Linked DNA regions of Homo sapiens: region 1 is linked to region 2. The links come from fine-mapping of genetic effects on gene expression. Tissue or cell type: prefrontal cortex. Region 2 holds a variant in brackets; the other region holds the start of a gene. All regions are shown on one strand. Distances are between the middles of the regions.

What was found. PIP is the estimated chance that this variant, and not a neighbour inherited with it, causes the effect.
Region 1: FLG starts here. The variant in region 2 is the best candidate, but not a certain one, in a credible set for the expression of FLG in prefrontal cortex (GTEx, PIP 0.60).

The regions. Positions count from the first base shown.
Region 1 is chr1:152,322,886-152,328,039 of GRCh38, reverse strand. It overlaps FLG (filaggrin), which reads left to right and starts at 2,801. Exons shown (of 3, transcript NM_002016.2): 1 at 2,801-2,851. The region is part of intron 3 of CCDST (cervical cancer associated DHX9 suppressive transcript); the gene reads right to left.
Region 2 is chr1:152,481,706-152,486,859 of GRCh38, reverse strand. No RefSeq gene overlaps it. Among named protein-coding and RNA genes, the nearest start is that of LCE5A, 27 kb to the left of the region's middle. The variant C/T (reference allele first, on the strand shown) is at 2,164.

The DNA of each region.
Region 1 (5,154 bases), 160 kb after region 2:
AATAGTTTGATAAATGCTGAGCCAAGTACCTCACCACCTATTTTGTTCCAGCTAATGTGTTTATTTTAATGCAGCCTAATATCACATTATCTTTTTGGCTATGGCATCACTCTGCCACTGCCACAATATTGCTTTTTTTACTCATGTCTTCTACCCTATCCTTGTAAAGTGTAATTTGGAACTGGAGTCAGAATTTTACTTTTTCAATAATATTCATTTATCAGATTTGAGCCATTGGTGCAACATGATAAAATCTTCTTGAATCCTCAGTCTATCCTAAAAATATTTGCCATCTATCCAAATTTTCACCTAAGTTATTGATAAAATACAATGAGCACAACATGGTCAGGAAAAAAGTCCTAGAGCAGACCACTAAACAATACCCTCCATATTGACATAATTCTGCAAGATTTGGGGTCTTTTGGCCCCAAAGAAGGTCATATCCAAGATTGCCTCATTCTTGACACTCTCTCAATGCTACCTTCTTCACTCACTCATAGTCCATGGTCTAGTCTTTCTGCTGATCCTGCAATGATTTCCACAGTTAAGTTCACCCAGACATAGGTACTTTGAGAGAAATCACTGTTTAAAACATTAAAAATATAAATAAGGTTAACAAAAAAAGGATAAAAGTTCACACCCAGAACAATATGCCATGGTGGAAATAATGTGGGAGTTGGAGTCTGAATAACCTCAGATTAAATCCTAGTTCTGTAACTTACTTGCTTGGTGACCTTGGGTGCCTTATCAGTATCAGTTCCCTCATCTCTAAAATAGAGGAATAATAATGACCTCAAAGGGTTGTCCTGATGATTAAAATTAATACACGCAAAATCTTAGCACATTCCTAGCACATAATGGGTATACAATATAGATTACTATCATTATTACATCATGGTAGAGACAAAAATGCAATAACTACTGGCATAAAAAAATTAGACCCAAGAAGAAAAAAGGAGAAAATGAATATCTGTGTTCTACAGATGTTAACCAATACTCCACAAAAGAAAGAATCAATGGTCTAATAAGGTTAAGAACGAGGACATTAAACACAGTTTTAAAAACTCGGGCATATTTTTATCTCTTTGACTCTGAACAAGATTGGCACACCCTTGCATCCCTTATTTGATCATGTCCCAGGCATTGCTGTAGGGCCCAAGGACACAAAGGATGACTCAGACCCAGTCAATGCTAGGGTGAGAAGAAACACAGGATTCAAGGCACCAGGGGGCAGGGGGCACACATATAAATAAGTAATTAATATAAAATATCACCAGTGCTATTGAGAGGTAAATACAGAGTATGTGAGGGAACACTGATAAATCTGGAGATGTCAGGTAAGGCTTTATGCAGGAGGTGGTAATTTTGAAGAATCTTAAAAGATAAAGAGAAGTTAAGGATGAGGGTCTCTCAAGTCAAGGTAGTGGAGGATAGCACGCAAAGATTTTGAACAGTAGTGGACCAATATGGGCTCGTCCAAGAAATATTGCTCATTCTAGAGTGACTTTTCCATGAGATACAGGTAATAAGAGGGACAATTGAAAAGATACAGATTCATGCCTATTGTAAAGGGGCTTGTACGTCAGGTAAAAAAGTCTGAAATTCTGCAGGCAAGAAGAAACCAGCACAGCGAATGACATAAGATGGTAAGCCAGCTTAATAGTAGAGAGAGAGGCTAGTTACGACACTTTTTTTTCTTTACCAATACCCAATTGAAAGATGGTCAGGTCCAGAACTAAAATTATAGCACTGGAGGTAGAGAATAGGCCTACATAACAAAATCTAAGCCTGAGTATAATTGATACGATGTGACATGAGCATGAGGGGTTAAGGAAAAGGAGAAATGAAAATGACTTTGTCTAGCTTGAGACACCCAGTGTGTGGGGGCATCATTACCAATATATGGGCTTCTGGAGGATAGTACATTTTGGTAGGAGGCACAATGTAAGTTCAGTTTTCAACACTATGGATTGAGATAACCATGGGACATCCATATGGAGATGCAATCTGCTCAACATAACAGTGTGTATATCATAAGACAGACCAGGGATAGGAGTCCCCTGTATATTTATGGCAATAAAAGAAAATTCATGGTTTAAGAAGGAAGAGTATGTGGAACATGTCTCTGATGCCACGATGTAATAACCTTGAAAACAAAGTAAAATTACACTAATGAGTCTTGCCTAATTAAACTCATGCTCCTAGTGATCACCACTTCTAGTTCAATTGTTCACATTCTTGCTCTGCTTTGAAAAATTAAAATTAAATTTGCCTATCCTCTACTGACCATAATTTCTAGAAGACGGCATTCATCTCATGGCAAGTTCTTCAGTACCCAAAGATGGAATACATAGATTAAAAAAGAACATATATGTAGATGCTTGTGATGTTTTCCTATCATAAATTGAATTTCAAGTTCTTATAAACGTATTAATATGTCCTACTCTTCTAGAGACAAGGATCAGGAAGTGTATTTATCAATAGATATTTACCAAGCACCTGTCAAGCCAAAGTGGGGTTACAGAAAAGTAGGTATGGGCCCTGCACACAAACAACCTGTATTAGCCAAAGGGACCCTTCCATAAAATTTCCAATATGTAAACCCAAATTTGGAACTTGCTGAAACAAGTACAGATGAGTACGTGAGGAAGCTGGGAAGTAAACACAGGTTGCTGGAGAAATAGAGGTGGAGATATGGGTGGATCTAGGTTTGGTTAGGAATGAATCAGACCATCCCACAGAGGGTGGCTCCTCCCTGCATGGGGCCTGCTATAAAAGGGCCATTATCTCAGCCTTCAGTACCCAGCAGGCTCCTTCAGGCTACATTCTATTTGCTCTTTTGGTGAACAAGGTAAGAAGGAATACATTTAATTTTGTCTACTTACTATTAACCAAGGTGGAAATCTGAATGTATGTGTACTGTAAGGCAAAAGGTTCTGGAAGTTTAGGGTTTTTCTCTTTCTTTTTAGTGGCACTGTCACTAAAAGGTTTATTTCTATATAGAAGGAAAATGAGGGCATAAATTTGCTTTCCATGGAGCTACTCAATACTCTGTATTGTTAGATTGTCCATTTATTCATTTACTTAACAAATATGTATTAACTACCTTCTACTTGGTCTTGGCTCTATCTATGCAGCAGTGAACTATATAAACTCCTAGCAGCTTACCTTTAATAGGGGGAAACATTTAGTAAACAACAATAAACAAATAAGATAATTTTAAATAGTGATAAGAACAATGAAGAAAATAAAAGAGTGATGTAGTAGAGCAGGGGTGTCCCGTCTTTTGGCTTCCCTGGGTCATAATGGAAAAAGAATTGTCTTGGGCCACACATAAAACACACTGACACTAATAATAGCTGATAAGCTTAAAAAAAAACTCGTAATGTTTTAAGAAAGTTTACAAATTTGTGTTGGGCCACATTCAAAGCTGTCCTGGGCCACAGATTGGACAAGCTTGTAGTAAAGTGATGGGAGGGAGGAGGAAAGTGCTTTAAATTAGATGGCCAGGGGAAGACCTCTCTAGGGAATTATCTTTGAGTTGAGATCTTAAACACAAAAGAAACTAGCCAAGGCAAAGGGCAAGATTCTAAGCAAGAGTAAACTTGTCCCAAAGAGCAAAAAGAAGCTAGTGTGCCTTAGAGCATACATAGTTAAAAAGAGGACCAGTGGTATATGGTGATGTCAGAGAGCTAGACAGCGTAGCTCATGTAAAGAGGGGCACAGTAGAATTAAAACAGTACATGTTAGATTTTAGCATGTACTTAAAGGGGTATTAAGCAGGAGGAGTAAGATAATCTATGTTTTTAAAAGACCACTCTGGGCTGCTACGTGGAAAACAGGAATATAGGAAGGCAAGAGCAGGAGCAGGGAGAGACTGCATTCTTTTATGTGAAAGATGATGGAAATAATAGAAATAACGAGAAATAACTGTTTGCTCATACCAAAATCTAGAAGTTATCCATGATTCCTGTTTTCTCATCACACTGATTCATCACCACGTCCAGTCAACTCTGCCTACAAACCTGCCAAATCTATCCATTTATCCCCCTCTCTGCCATTATCATCCTAGTCCAGTCTACCTTCATCTCCCAACACTGACTATTATGTTATCTGAAAATATAACAATTTATTCATCCATTTGTCTATGGGTAGATACTTGGGTCTCTTCCATTTTGGGGGGTATTATAAATAATAGGGCTATGCACTTTTTTGTGTACTACTTTTGGTTACACATATGTACATATTTCAGTTGGGAATATTCCTAAGAGTAAATCGCTAGGACTTAGATACTGTCAAACAATTTTCCAAAGTGCTTCTGTCACTTTATGTGCCTCCAGCAGTACATAAAAAAAAAAAAAATCTCAATTCTCCACATTCTCACCAATATTTGGTATTGTCAAGGATTTTTTTCTTTCTTATCTTTTTAGTCACTTTGGTGGGTGTATTGAGGTCTCACACGTTATTTCAATTTGCATTTCCCTAGTGCATAACAAGGTTGAGAAGTTTTGATATGTTTATTGGCCATTTGGATATCCTTTTCTGTAACGTTCCTAAGGTATTCATTTTTCCATTGAGTTAACTGTATTTTTTATTGATTTATAGAAGCTATTTTTATATTCAGGACAGATTCCTTTATTGGTTAAATGTGTTTTGTATATCCTCCCACTGTGTGGCTTGTACATCTCTCTTCTAATGCTATCTTTAAAAGAATAAACATTCCTACTTTTAATGCAGTACAATTTATCAGTCTTTTTCTTATTAATTAGTACTTTTTGAATTTTATTTAAGTATTTCCCCACCCCGAGGTCCTGAAGATATTCTCCAATGTTATCTTCGTTTATCTCTTACATGTAAAATCAACCTGGAAACTATTTTTTTTCCATTTGAAAATTCAATTAACCCAGCACCATTTATTCAAGACTATTCTTTCTCTACTGACCTACACTACCATCTTTGCCATTAACCAAATGTCCAGAGTGATATAAGACTGACTTTATACTATTATCTTTTATCATTCCATTTGTTTAGCCTTGCATCATGCCATATTTTCTTCCTTTATAACACACCTTGCTATCTGGTATGTCTTCCAACTTAGTCTTCTTAAAGATGGTCTTACCTAATCTTAGCCCTCTACATTTTCATATAAATTTT
Region 2 (5,154 bases):
CAACTGACCCACCTGAGGTGGAGATAAAATTTCTGATTAGATGTCTATATTTCTGTCTCTTCTGGTTTAAGAAAATCTCATTTTAGGAAATAACTCAATCAACATAACTTTTACCTCCTGCTTAGCATTTTTTATCCCCTTTCCCCTTGTCCTGTACTGATGGCATCTGGGTTCAGGACAGGAACCCCAGGCCCTAGGGGTCACACGCAAAGGAAAGCCTGGGATTCCTCTGCTGGATTTTGGATTTTTGCTGCCCCCTACTGTAAGGGGGACTGAACTGACCAAGTTCTTGGTCTAGGGTCCACTGATGAAATTTGTGGCCAGTTAACTTGTATTCTGTTCCCATGGCCTGGGCCAGCCCACTGATCCTCCTGGCTCACCCAAGCTCACTTTAGCTCTGACTGGAGCTGGAGATACGAAGGAAATAATGTATACAGTGGTCCATTTCCAAGATAAAGTGCCTTAAATTGTCTTAGGTCAGCAAACTACAGAAAACACAGGATATACTAGGCCCCTGCTTGGATAGCCAACATCTGCTTGTAGCCCCTGCCCCCTGTTTAGTTGCCCTCACCCAAACCAAAGAAGTTTAGTCTAAGATGAAAGTTTACTAGCCTGCAAAATAGCTCACTTTGTCTGTTCTTATCAGCCTGCCCAACTACTTAGGTCATAAGTCAAATACTTAAAGAGCCCCTGAGCTGACTAGGATTGCAATGCATTGTAGGCTGCAACAAAATGCTGCAAGACAACACCTAAAGCCCCAACCCAACAAGTGATAGGTGATGTCTGGGAAGATTGTGACCCCATAGTACTTAGCCTATGAAGAGTCCGGGAGAGGGACCTGTGCACTAGGGGATAAATTGCTTGTTGTAACTGTGCTAGGTGTGCCTGCCCATCAGACAAGCTGTCTTGCAAGACCATCATTAAAAGTTTCACTTTAGCTGTTCTCTGGGTCTCTGAGTCCATTCTTTGGGATTGGATGGGTGAGTTTCTTTCTCACAACCTGGTAACCCGTATGGGGAACTCTGTGCCTGCATGGAGTGGGACTCCAGCTGAGAGGGGAGATACATCCCACCTGATTTAGGTGGCCTGCTCTGTCTGGGTGTCCTGGCTCCCCACAAAAGCAGAAGACAAACCTGAGACTGTTATTCAGGAGACAGTGGAAGTGACACAGGGAGAAAAGCAGGCACCATGGCAACTAGGCAAACTTGTGCATGAGCCAAGGTAGGAAAATTGGACTATAAGTACTGCCTTGGTGGTTAGGCATTTTCAGAGGTTGAGTGTGTGTGACTAAGATGTACCTTAGATACAAAGCGAGTGCAGAGTCCCAATTGTCCCATGAGGAAACAGCTGGAGACAAACGAAGCAATTCTTGAGGTGTCGAAGAAACTTCCAGTGTGGGGGCTGAGTACACAGGAAAAAGCTCAGACACAGAGACTAACCAAAAACGGGAAATAAGAATTCTAGGCTTAGGAAACAAAGGAAAAAGGAAACTAAAGAGACCCCCCTCTAAAATTCCCCCAGATAATCCATTGGGGAAAATGCTGCAGGTTTGGAGGGATAACCCTCGAACCAGGGACAAGGAAAAGCAAAAGATAATAAATATTGCTGTTTTATCTGGCCCAAAGAGCCCGTTAATCAGCCTCAGTCTTTTGGCCTAAGTTTGGCTCAGATGAGGACTGGGTGTGCCAAACTTAATTCTCTATGTAAATACCAAAACTCCAACCTCACAAGAGGAGGTGGGTTATGCTTTTTGTTGGATTAGTGAATTAACCCCCATGATCCCCCTTAAAGAAAAAAAAAGAGCATAATAAAGGGCCTTTGCCCAGTGAAATCCCTGGCATCCCCTAACATGCTTTCCCCCTGCCCCATACATCTCACAAAGTAGAGGACAGGGAGATCAGGAGGCAACAGGAAGGCAAGAGGAAGAGGAATCTGGGGGTCATAAAGGAGCTAAACCCAATGCTCTCTTAAATCCTTATCCAAATTTAAGGAAAAAAATTAGAACAATGTTTTAAAAAATTTGAGAATTTACCTATTCCTTCTAAACAGCAGGTGTCTAACATGTACCCTCTTAGAGACTTCCCTATGGGACAGGAAGAAGTTGGATTTGTGGGTGTGCCTCTAACAAGTACTGAGGTTAGGAATTTTAAAAAGGAAATAAGG[C/T]CACCATAAAAAAATCCCCTAGATTTAGCAGAGCAGGTAGTTCAATTTTTAGGACCAATTTTTATACTTGGGCTGAAATGATGTCAATTGTAAATATTCTGTTTGCTGGGAAAGGGAGGAAGAGAAAAAATAAGAAGGTAAATTGGAAAGAGAAAGGGGAGGAAACAGCAAAGGTAGAGGACCAGAGAGAGACAGAAAGAGGAAGAAACTGAGTGTAAGGGAGAAAGGAAACAGGGGATGACAGAGAAAGCAATAGAAAAAGGAAATAAGTGAGAGAGAGACAGGAAAAGACAGATCAAAGACACAGATGGTGAGACTGGGGAGAAAGATAATGTAAAAGGAAGAACAAGTATAAAAGAAAGAAAGAGAAAGAGAGAGAGGCCATAAAGGACAGGAGACAGAGACAAAAGTGCAAGTAAGCAGTAGCGGCCACAGCTCTGCTGGTAGAGGAAATTCAAAAGTTGACCTTCAGCGGGGCCCTGGTAGTAAGCACCCCACATCAGGTCTGGAATGTATTAAACCAAAAAGCTGGAAGATGGTTAACTAATTCCCAGATTTTAAAATATAAATTCATATTACTACTACTACTAATAATAATAATAATAATAATTTGGTCTTAACAATAGATAAATCCAATAGATTTAACAATAGATACTTGCTTGAATCCAGCCAGTTTCTTATAGAAAGGAGACGAGAATGAGGAGGCATCAAACCGTAACTGTTTAAATATCATAGACTATCAAACTAAAGTTAAACCAGACCTTAGAGAAACTCCAGTACATGATGGGACAAGGCTGTTTGTGAATGGGTCATCCCAAGTAATACACAGCAAAAGACATAATGGCTATGCTGTCATTGATAGAAACAAACAATCCTTATGTGAAAAAGGTAAACCAATAACTGGTCAACCCAAACCTGTGAATTATATGCTCTTAACCAGGTCCTAAACCTCCTAGAAGGTCAAAAATGCACTATATATACTAATTCCAAATATGCCTATAGAGTAGTACACATCTTTGGAAAGATCTGGACAAAGTGGGGCCTAATAAATAGCGCTGGGAAAAAATTAGTACATGGGGAACTGGTCAAACAAGTTTTAAAAAGCCTCTTGCTTCCAGTAGCCATAGTTCACGTAAATGACCATCAGAAAGGAAACACTATAGAAGCTATAAAGAATGGGCTTGCAGATAAAGCTGCTAAGCAAGCCTCCCTGAAGAAAGAAGTTAGACTGTGTAGCCTAATACCAGATATCCCTAATGTGGTATTAAGACCCCAGTTTTCTAAAGAGGAGGAGAAAGAGCTGGGTAAGATAGGGGCCACTCAAACTGGGGATGGAAGGTGAGTGCTCCCTGACAGGAGAGTAATAATAAGCAAATCCATAATTAGAGAACCGATGTCATACTGCATAAGGGAAGTCATTGGGGAAAGTCTTGTGTAATGCAATACACAAGAATTATGGGTGTATAGAGATTTATACACTTGCTAAACAAGTGTGTGAGGGTTGTGTGACCTGCCAGAGAATAAACAAAAAGGTAGTTAAAAAAAAAAAAAAAAAAAAACGACTACTGGAAGAAGACCTCCTAGGTTAAGGCCATTTCAAAGCACTCAAGTAAATTTTACAGAAATGCCCAAAATAGAGAGACTAAAGTATCTGCTGGTAATAGTAGACCACCTCTCCAGCTGGGTGAAGGCCTTCCCCCTCCCAACTGCCACAGCCAGGAATGTGGTCAAAATAATCTTAAAACAAATTATACCCAGATTTGGCCTGGTAAAAAAAAATATTAATTCTGATAATGGAAGCCACTTTAACTCAAGGGTGCTAAGGAGAATTATGGAAGGTTTGCACATTAGATGGGATTACCACACCCCTTGGCATCCCCCCTCCTCTGGAAAGGTAGAGAAAATAAATCAAACTCTCAAAAAGCACGTTACCAAACTAATCTTAAAAACTAAAATGCTTTGGACCAAATGTCTCCCAATGATACTCCTTGGGATTAGGACAACCCCAAGAAAAGACTTAGGATTGTCCCCCTCTGAGTTATTGTATGGACTCTCATATTTAAACAAGGCTACAAAGCTTCCTACTATGGAAACCAAAGACCAATTTTTAAAAAATCATATACTGGCCATATCCTCTACCCTGTCATCTCTTAGGTTAAAAGGACTTCTGACTCAAACTCCACCCCTGAGTTCACGGTTCACCACTTCCAGCCTGGCTACTTGGTGCTGATTAAAACTTGGAAGGAAGACAAGCTCCACCCAAGCTGGGAAGGTCCCTGTCAAGTGCTCCTGACCACCGAAAAAGCCATGGAAACAGCTGAACGAGGGCGGACTCATTACACTTGGGTCAAGGGACCAGTAAAAAAAAAATGTAAGGAAGGGTAAAAGGGAAAAGGGCAAATGGGAAGTGTATAAATCGCCTAAGGAACCCTTAAAGCTAACTCTAAGGAAAACCTAGAAGAGAGCTATAAGCGGGCCCTGTCATTGGGGATGGTTATGGTTAGGATTAATCCTAACACAAAGGGTAAAAGGAAACCCGAGTATTGAATGGAGCCCAGTACTAGGGGTGGAAAGTAGGGAACATCCAATCAAACTAATAGTCAACATAACTCAGACTTTCACCCCGCAAGCTGTAAAATTTAATGCCTGCCAAGTTTTACCTTGAAGGACTTTAGGACACCAAAGACAGTTGTCACAGGCAAACAAATATCTATGACCTAAAACAAACCATTATTGGGCCCTCTCAGAAAAGCCCTACACTAGCTGAAATCAGTCTGGTAGACCAGTTAATACCAAGGCTGAGTAAGTCATTCTTCCAAAAACAAAGCCTTAAGGGGTAAAATACATTTATATAAGGGCCCCACACAACCTAACTGTGAAAATTTAAAATCCAATCATATATTAATCACAATAAACAACCCAGCTACTCTAGACCAGGAACCTTGGAAGTATGGATTAGGAGTAAATATCTCAGGAAGGGACCTCGTGGGA